Homo sapiens: one gene and its partner. The protein of the gene in region 1 purifies or fractionates together with the protein of each later gene. This does not show direct contact. Each region holds a gene or a part of one and is shown in the gene's direction. Other genes may lie near its edges. The genes, in order: ARMH1 and CA1.

Evidence for each region.
Region 2: the proteins of ARMH1 (region 1) and CA1 purify together in Homo sapiens (affinity purification with mass spectrometry; one large-scale study listed by BioGRID and IntAct). This does not show direct contact.

The regions. Positions count from the first base shown.
Region 1 is NC_000001.11:44,680,999-44,684,823, forward strand, and holds part of ARMH1 (armadillo-like helical domain containing protein 1), read left to right. Parts: intron 1-3,394; exon of another isoform or gene 3,395-3,653; coding exon of another isoform or gene 3,654-3,658; intron 3,659-3,825.
Region 2 is NC_000008.11:85,332,956-85,336,780, reverse strand, and holds part of CA1 (carbonic anhydrase 1), read left to right. Parts: intron 1-3,160; coding exon 3,161-3,256; intron 3,257-3,825. UniProt on the Homo sapiens protein: Catalyzes the reversible hydration of carbon dioxide. Can hydrate cyanamide to urea.

The DNA.
Region 1 (3,825 bases):
TTTTTTTTTTTTTTGAGACGGAGTCTCGCTCTGTCACCCAGGCTGGAGTGTAGTGGCGTGATCTCGGCTCACTGCAAGCTCCACCTCCCGGGTTCACGCCATTCTCCTGCCTCAGCCTCCCGAGTAGCTGGGACTGCAGGCGTCCACCACCATGCCCGGCTAACTTTTTGTATTTTTTAGTAGAGAGGGGGTTTCACCGTGTTAGCCAGGATGGTCTCGATCTCCTGACCTCGTGATCTGTCTGCCTCAGCCTCCCAAAGTGCTGGGATTACAAGCGTGAGCCACTGCGCCCGGCCGTGAGGCTCCATTTCTAAAAAATTTTTTTAAGTTAGCCAGGCATGGTGGTGCACACCCATAGTCCTAGCTACTCAGGAGGCTGAGGCAGGAGGATCGCTTGAGCCCGGGAGTTCAAGACTGCATTGAGCTATGACGGTGCTGTGCACTCCAGCCTGAGTGACAAGAGTGAGCCCCTATCTCGAATAAATACACTGATAAATAAATAATAATAAAGATAGGTAAAAATCAAGGCTAACAAGAAAAATGCCTAAATAGAGGGGTTAAGGATACAAGGGAGGCAGGAGTAATGAGTAGAATGAGGGCCCTGAGAAGGCGGGGTGGATGGAGGCAGAGCTCTGGTAGATGGCTAGAGAAGGAGAGGAGAAGGATGGATGTGGATAGAGATGAAGAAAGAAGAGGAGTATGACGACATTCTTACCTAATGGCCTATAACTTTCTTTGTTAAACCCAAAAGTAGGCCTTCTGAGAATAGATGGAAGAGGTGGGAAGGTAAGGAGCTTGGAATTGTAGACTTCATAGGTGGGATGGTGCTAGCCAGTCACAGATTTGGGGTGTGGGTTTTGGGTATGAAAGCTGTGTTGGTTGGAGGTGAAAGCGGGAGGTCGCTGGAGTCTGCATTCCATGTCTCTTCTCTGTGCGCCAACAGAACCTGGGATATATCCCATCAGAGCGCTCTCCACTGTTCATTAAAATCACCTTTTTGCTTGTCTCTCTGCCCTGCCAGTCTGTAAGCACCCGAGGGCAAGGTCTATGTTTGTCACGTTAACCAATCCCAAGCCCAGTGCTCGGCTCAGAGTTGGCACCTGGGAATCTGTTTAATTAACTAATGTGCAGAGCTAAGGAAATTAAAGTGCACATTCTGAGCACAGTGTGTTGGATGTCAGTTTAAATAACACTTATTGAGTGCCTGTGTTTTACCAGAGACCCTGCTAGCCACCCAAATTACAAAGATGGAGCACACTGATGTTGAAATTGCCTAGTGGCTCTTGAGTAAACAGGAAGGCTTACGTGTCAAAGTCATTGATCGGCACTGCGGCAAGGTAGAGAGGGAAAGACAGATGGCCTGACCTCAGAGGAGGAGGAAGGGTTCAGGAACAGTAGTAGGGATTTAGAGAATGGTGTTTGAGGTGTAGGATAGTGGGCAGCCCCCTTCCTGATTTAGAAGCAGCAGCAGCATGGGTTGAGGCAAGGGGTGGGGTGGGGTGTCAGGTTTCACCTGGGGCCGAATTTAGATGGAAATTCTTTGGCCTGAAATGTTTGAAGCTTTATCCTCAGGTAGTAAGGAACCACTGAAGAGTTTGAAGCAGTGAAATCTGTCAGATTTGTACTTTTAAAAATCTCACATCAAAGCCTGGCCTGGTGGCTCACACCTGTAATCCCAGTACTTTGGGAGGCCGAGGCAGGAGGATTGCTTGAGCCCAGGAGTTTGACACCAGCCTGGGCAACGAAGCAAGACCCCACCTCTACAAAAAATAAACAAATATAAAAATAAAAATTAGGTGGGCATGGTGGCATGCACCTGTAGTCCCAGCTACTCAGGAGGCTGAGGTGGGAGGATCACTCGAGCCCAGGCGATTGAGGCTGCGGTAAGTTATGATTGTGCCACTGCACTCCAGCCTGGGTGACAGAGCAAGGCCCTGTCTCAAAAATAAAAATAAAAATAAAAAATCTCACATCACTGTGGAGTTTAGGCTGGGGCAAGCCCGAAGACCAGTGGAGGCTGTTGCAGTAATCCATATGCGGAACAAGGGTGTGAAACTGAAATAGCGGCAGTGGAGGTGAAGACAGACAGACTGATCTCAGGGAAATTTAGGACATGTAATTGGCAGGAGCTGGCAACAGTTCAGATGAGGGCAAGGGAGAGGAATAAGTCAAAGACAACTTTTGGCTGACTAGGAGGGTGGTGACCCAAGCACTGAAATAGGACCAACACAGGGCAAGGGGCAGGTGTGAGTTGATGAGTTCAGTTTGGGACCTGTTGACTTGAGGAGCCTGTGACACATACCAGTGAAGAGTCTGCCGGTCACTTAAGTACATAAAGAGATCTGGAGCTCAGGTGGGAGGCCCAGACTGAGGAGACGGATTTGAGAGTCGTGCGCCTATAAATGTAATTTGAAGTGATGGGGTGAATGAGGTCACCCAGGGATTACAAAGCATGAGAAGAGAACTAAGAACGGGAAAACGACCTGCAAAGGCACTATCCTGCAATGGCAACTGAGGATTCAGAGAGTCTGGAGTAGAACCAGGGGATTCTGGGGTTAGGAAAAGAGTCATTCACAATCCATCAGAGAGACCAAGCACGCTGGGACGGTGAGCTAAACCACTAAATCTGACAACAGGAGATTATTGGTGACACCTTGGAGCACAGAGGAGAACAGGATCCATGCCCTTGGCTTAGTGGGGAAAAACCTGGACTTTGGAGTTATATGCAGATCTAAGTTCAAATCCCATTCCCATCCCTATTTGAGACCTTCAATAAATGAGCAAACCCTTCTAAACCTTAGTTTCTTCATCTGAAAGTTGTGGATAATGATGACCTCCTGAGGATCTTAAGAGGATTAAAACAAAGAATTTAGGCAGGGTGCGGTGGCTCACACCTGTAATTCCAGCACTTTGGGAGGCCAAGGTGGGAAGATAGCTTGAGGCCAGGAGTTTGAGATCAGCCTAGGCAACACAGAGAGACCCCATCTCTATAAACAAAAACAACCACAGAGAGAGAGAGAGAGTGTGTGAGTGTGTGTGCGTATGGTGTGTGGATAGCTCTTAATCAACACTCAAAAAATGTCAGTTTCTTCTCCCTGCCTTCATTCCTTCTGCCTTCACCAGGAAACACAGCTAACATCACTTTTTCCTTAGCGGTCAACAAGCTTAGATACAATTTATCCCAGCAACTGACTCTTGAAATTGACACATTTTGGTCTTTTTTCCACTGTTTTCATCTTATTAATTATTTTTAAAAATGGTAGTTAATGGGTCTTTTTTTACCCTCATCAAGCTTACTATTAAAGAAAGGTTGAGATAAATAATACATGACTGGAGGCTCTTAATTAAATATACTTAATGTCTTTTATCTCCCCCTACTTCTGAAAAACCTTAGTGACATAACCCCGCTGAAGAAATATAAAAAAGCATTCAGTCACAAAAGTTCATGGAAGGAGGCAACAGGAGATGAAAGAATTCAACAAATATTTGGAAGGCAGAAGGCAGGTGCAGGGAGGCTAACCGGCTTGAAGCAGAGGAAATTGCAAGCAACTGCCAACAAGGGGAGCTTACCAACAAGAAACCAGTCAATTCAGCCAGTTTGACCTCTAAGAGGCTTAATGCTTGAAAGCACAAATTACCACTGAAGGTCAGAAATGAGGTATGGAGCCCAACCTAGGGGGATTCACTGACCTCTGTGTGCAGAGCACTTGCCTGCACTCCAGACCCTCAACCGCCAAGAAAGAAATGACTCTAAACTTTCTTGCTGCATGAAGAGGAAGGAAGTTGGACTCTGTAGGCCTCCTTGCACAGGGACCTCAGGCAGGG
Region 2 (3,825 bases), on another chromosome or scaffold:
CAAGAGAGAGAAAATTTTCATGTGGAAAGAGGCAGCTAAACTCCTGAGCCCAAGATTCACCTTTCCCTGAGAATGCCTCAAAAGCTGTTACCTTGATATCAAAGCTAGCTTCAAAGGATGACACTGCTCCTCCTTTAAAGCTGTAACCCCAAATGGAACACACCATCATTTCCTCTTTATTTAAACGTTCAAGTTTGGATACACCAGCAGTATCGTTGTGGCCAAGCCAGGACAATTCAATGAGACTCTACTAAGAGCTCGAATTTAACCACAGCAATGGTCACAGAACAGCATACACCTAGATGAGGGTCTAACCTTCCCTGGCTCTTAACCTGCTCTCACATGGAAGTTTGTGACTTATTTCAGGACATTATTATCTGTATATCCAAAGAAAAATGGAGACATGTACACCAAACTCTCAGCAGAGGGTCTGGGAGATTAAAATGTGAGAAATTTTGCTCTTTATTTTAGGTGTATGAATTATATAATACATGTGTACCCATATATGCAGGTTGACTTTTTAATTTTACTTTCATCAAATGAATTCTATAATATATATAATTTTGCAACCTGCTTTTTTTCTATTTACCCACTTATCATGACAATTTTTAAAAATCAGAAGATTGAATTCCACCTTTTTTACTGTCAGCATAGTATTTCATTTGGGTGAATGCATCAGAATTTATTTAACTGCCTTCTATTGATGAACAATCACAACATATGATTTTTGTTATATTGGTTTCTTTTGCTTTTATTAAAAAATGCTTCAGTGAATATATCTGTACATATATCTTGTGCACTAGTGAAAGTAATTATGTACGATAGATTTTTCCAGGGCAGACTGCTACGTTACAAAGTATATGTATCTTCTATTCTGATAGAACATCAGCAGATTGTATACAAATAAAACTTGCTTTACCTTGTGTTGTAAAGCATGACTAACACCTTTCAATGCTGCAGAAATCTGTTAATTGGGTTTTCCCCTCCATAAAATTGAAGGTAGATTAAAATTAAATGGACTAAGAGCCTAAATTAGTATTATCTTTTTGGAAGGATAGTTGGTAGTATCCAAGAAAACTAAATTAGTGACTCTCTCATCTAAATTGAGAAAAATCAATATAATCCATGCTAGATATTGAGAGACACTTAGCCACAAAGTTTAGCATATGATTAAATTCAGTTCAATAAACCTTCTTGAGATACCTATAAGACAATAGGTTTGAGAGGCAATGCAGCCTGTTGCTTAAGAATGCAAGTACCCAGCTGACTGCCAGGGTTTGAATCAAAGCTCGACCACTTACTAGCTGTACAAATTCAAACAAATCACTCTACGCTCCAGTATTCCTATATAGAGAATCTAGATAATATAGCATTAGTATCTATCTTAATAATTGTTGACAGCATGAAAAGAGTTAACCCATACAGAGCACACTTAGACCAGCACCTTTCATGTTGCATGTGCTGAATAATGTTACTTAACATTTCCGTAGAGACACAAGCAAACATTTTTCAAGCAGGGAAGTATAGGCATAAATTATTGTGATTAAATAAATATAGTAGCAAATGGCAGTATGACTATTCACAAAGAAGCATAGGAATACAGATGTAAGAATAATTAATTACAAGTAGGGACAGAATCTACACTGGCATGGTCAGAGGAAATTGCAATAAGTGATCCCTCTTAATATACTGTCTTAATCATTCTTTTTTCATTCAACAAATATTCACTGGACACCTACAATATGCCAGATACTGTCTTTATTTTTTGTCGTTATTTATTTATTTATTTTTGAGAAAGAGTCTTGCTCTGTTGCCCAGGCTGGAGTCCAGAGGCACGATCTCGGCTTACTGCAACCTCCTCCTCTCAGGTTCAAGTGATTCTCCTGCCCCGGCCTCCTGAGTAGCTGGGATTACAGGCATGTGCCACCACACCCGGCTAATTTTGTATTTTTAGTAGAGATGGAGTTTTACCACGTTGGTCAGGCTGATCTCGAACTCCTGACCTCGTGATCCGCCCGCCTCGGCCTCCCAAAGTGCTGGAATTACAGGCGTGAGATACTGTTTTTAAAAAGTACTTGCTATCAGAACTTGCATTTGATAGGGAAAATAAAAATTTCAGAGGAAGGAAGGCAGGAAAGAAGGGAGGGAGGAAGGAAGGAAGGGAGGGAGGAAGGAAGGGAGGGAGGGAGGAAGGGAGGGAGGAGAATAGGAAGAAGAGAGATTAAATAAGTGATATGGATAGAACTGTTTTGATTTGTGGTGGTTACTTTATATTGGATGATCAGGAAAGAATTATTTAAGGAGTGGCATTTGAGTTCAACCCTAATTCAAGACAAAAGTCTGCCATTTGAAGATCATGGGGAAGGAAATTCCAGAGAAAATTAGAAGCTAATGCAAAGGCTCAAAGTTGTGAACATGTGACGAAGTATAACCTGTAAGATGTGAATGTTGATAGGTGGGGAAAGCAAGAAATGAATGATAGTTGTTGTACTTATTGATTGAGCATTTAAAAACCTTATCCTAAGAAGGTAAAATTAAGCAGGTTTGGCAAGAAGGAAATCTAGAGTTCTATTTTGGCCAGATTAAGTCTGAAACATCTATTAGACATCCATGTAGAGATATCAAGAATATATCAAGAATACATATATACATACTTGGATGTACAAATCTAGAGTTTGCAGAGACGTTAAGCTGGAGATATTTATTTGAGAGATGTTTGGAAAGGGCACGAACGTGCCTGAAAGAATCTGTTCTTGGCCAAGACTCCCAGGAACTCCAGGAACCCTTTCTCATAAATTTACTATAAAGTACCTCATGTGAGAGAAAATTACTTCAATTATTTTCCCAAAAACTAGTTAGTCATATTTCCTGATCTTTTCAAAACAAAGAGAGATACATTTAAAGGAGTAATATTAAATAACAATATCGTAGGAAAGGACATTTTGCTTACTGGTTCCAGGTTTTGTAATCTCTACCTGGCACACAGATAACCCTTCCTACGAGTGAGAATGTAACTCTTCTAATCCACTGGATAAAGGTTCACATAAGTTTTATGTATCTAAGCCAAGATACATCATCATATGGTAACAAGTTAACTTATAACTTATCTTTTTTCATCACACTGGTATAAATAATTAATTAACCATAGTATCATTTTTAGCTTCACGTAGCTCACTGGAATTCTGCAAAGTACTCCAGCCTTGCTGAAGCTGCCTCAAAGGCTGATGGTTTGGCAGTTATTGGTGTTTTGATGAAGGTGAGTTACAGATAATTACACAGCTCTGCTTCCACTGTCTTACCAATTAGACCTCAAAATAGAAGGAAATAAGGCAACATATATTTTAGAATTTCTTATTTTAAAGTTTCCATTTAACCGATGACTACAGGTGAACAAATAGTTCCCTAGTATTTTATTGCTTGGTTTTATCTCTGCTTTTCCCTCTTAAAGAGAGAAATGAGTTTCAGGTGGAGGTGAGATAGAAATGTGTTCACAGGGAAAAAGGAATTTCTATTTTCCAGCTCTTCCAAATTCCCTTTCCTCTAAATTTCCTACATCATAGATTCTGAAATTTATTAATTTAATGTCTCATCAGGAAAGAAATATTATTAAATATTAATAAGGAAACCTGAAATCATAGATTCAGAAATTTATCAATTTAATATCTCATTAGGAAAGAAATAGTAAGAGAATTTTTTCTTACAAAGAATATTCAATTGATTTTTTAAATGGGAGATGTTGCTCAAATCCTCTATAGAAGAATCCCTGAAAAGTTCTATGAAAAAGTTATTATTAAATTGGGTATGCCCGGGTAACCAAGTAACTCT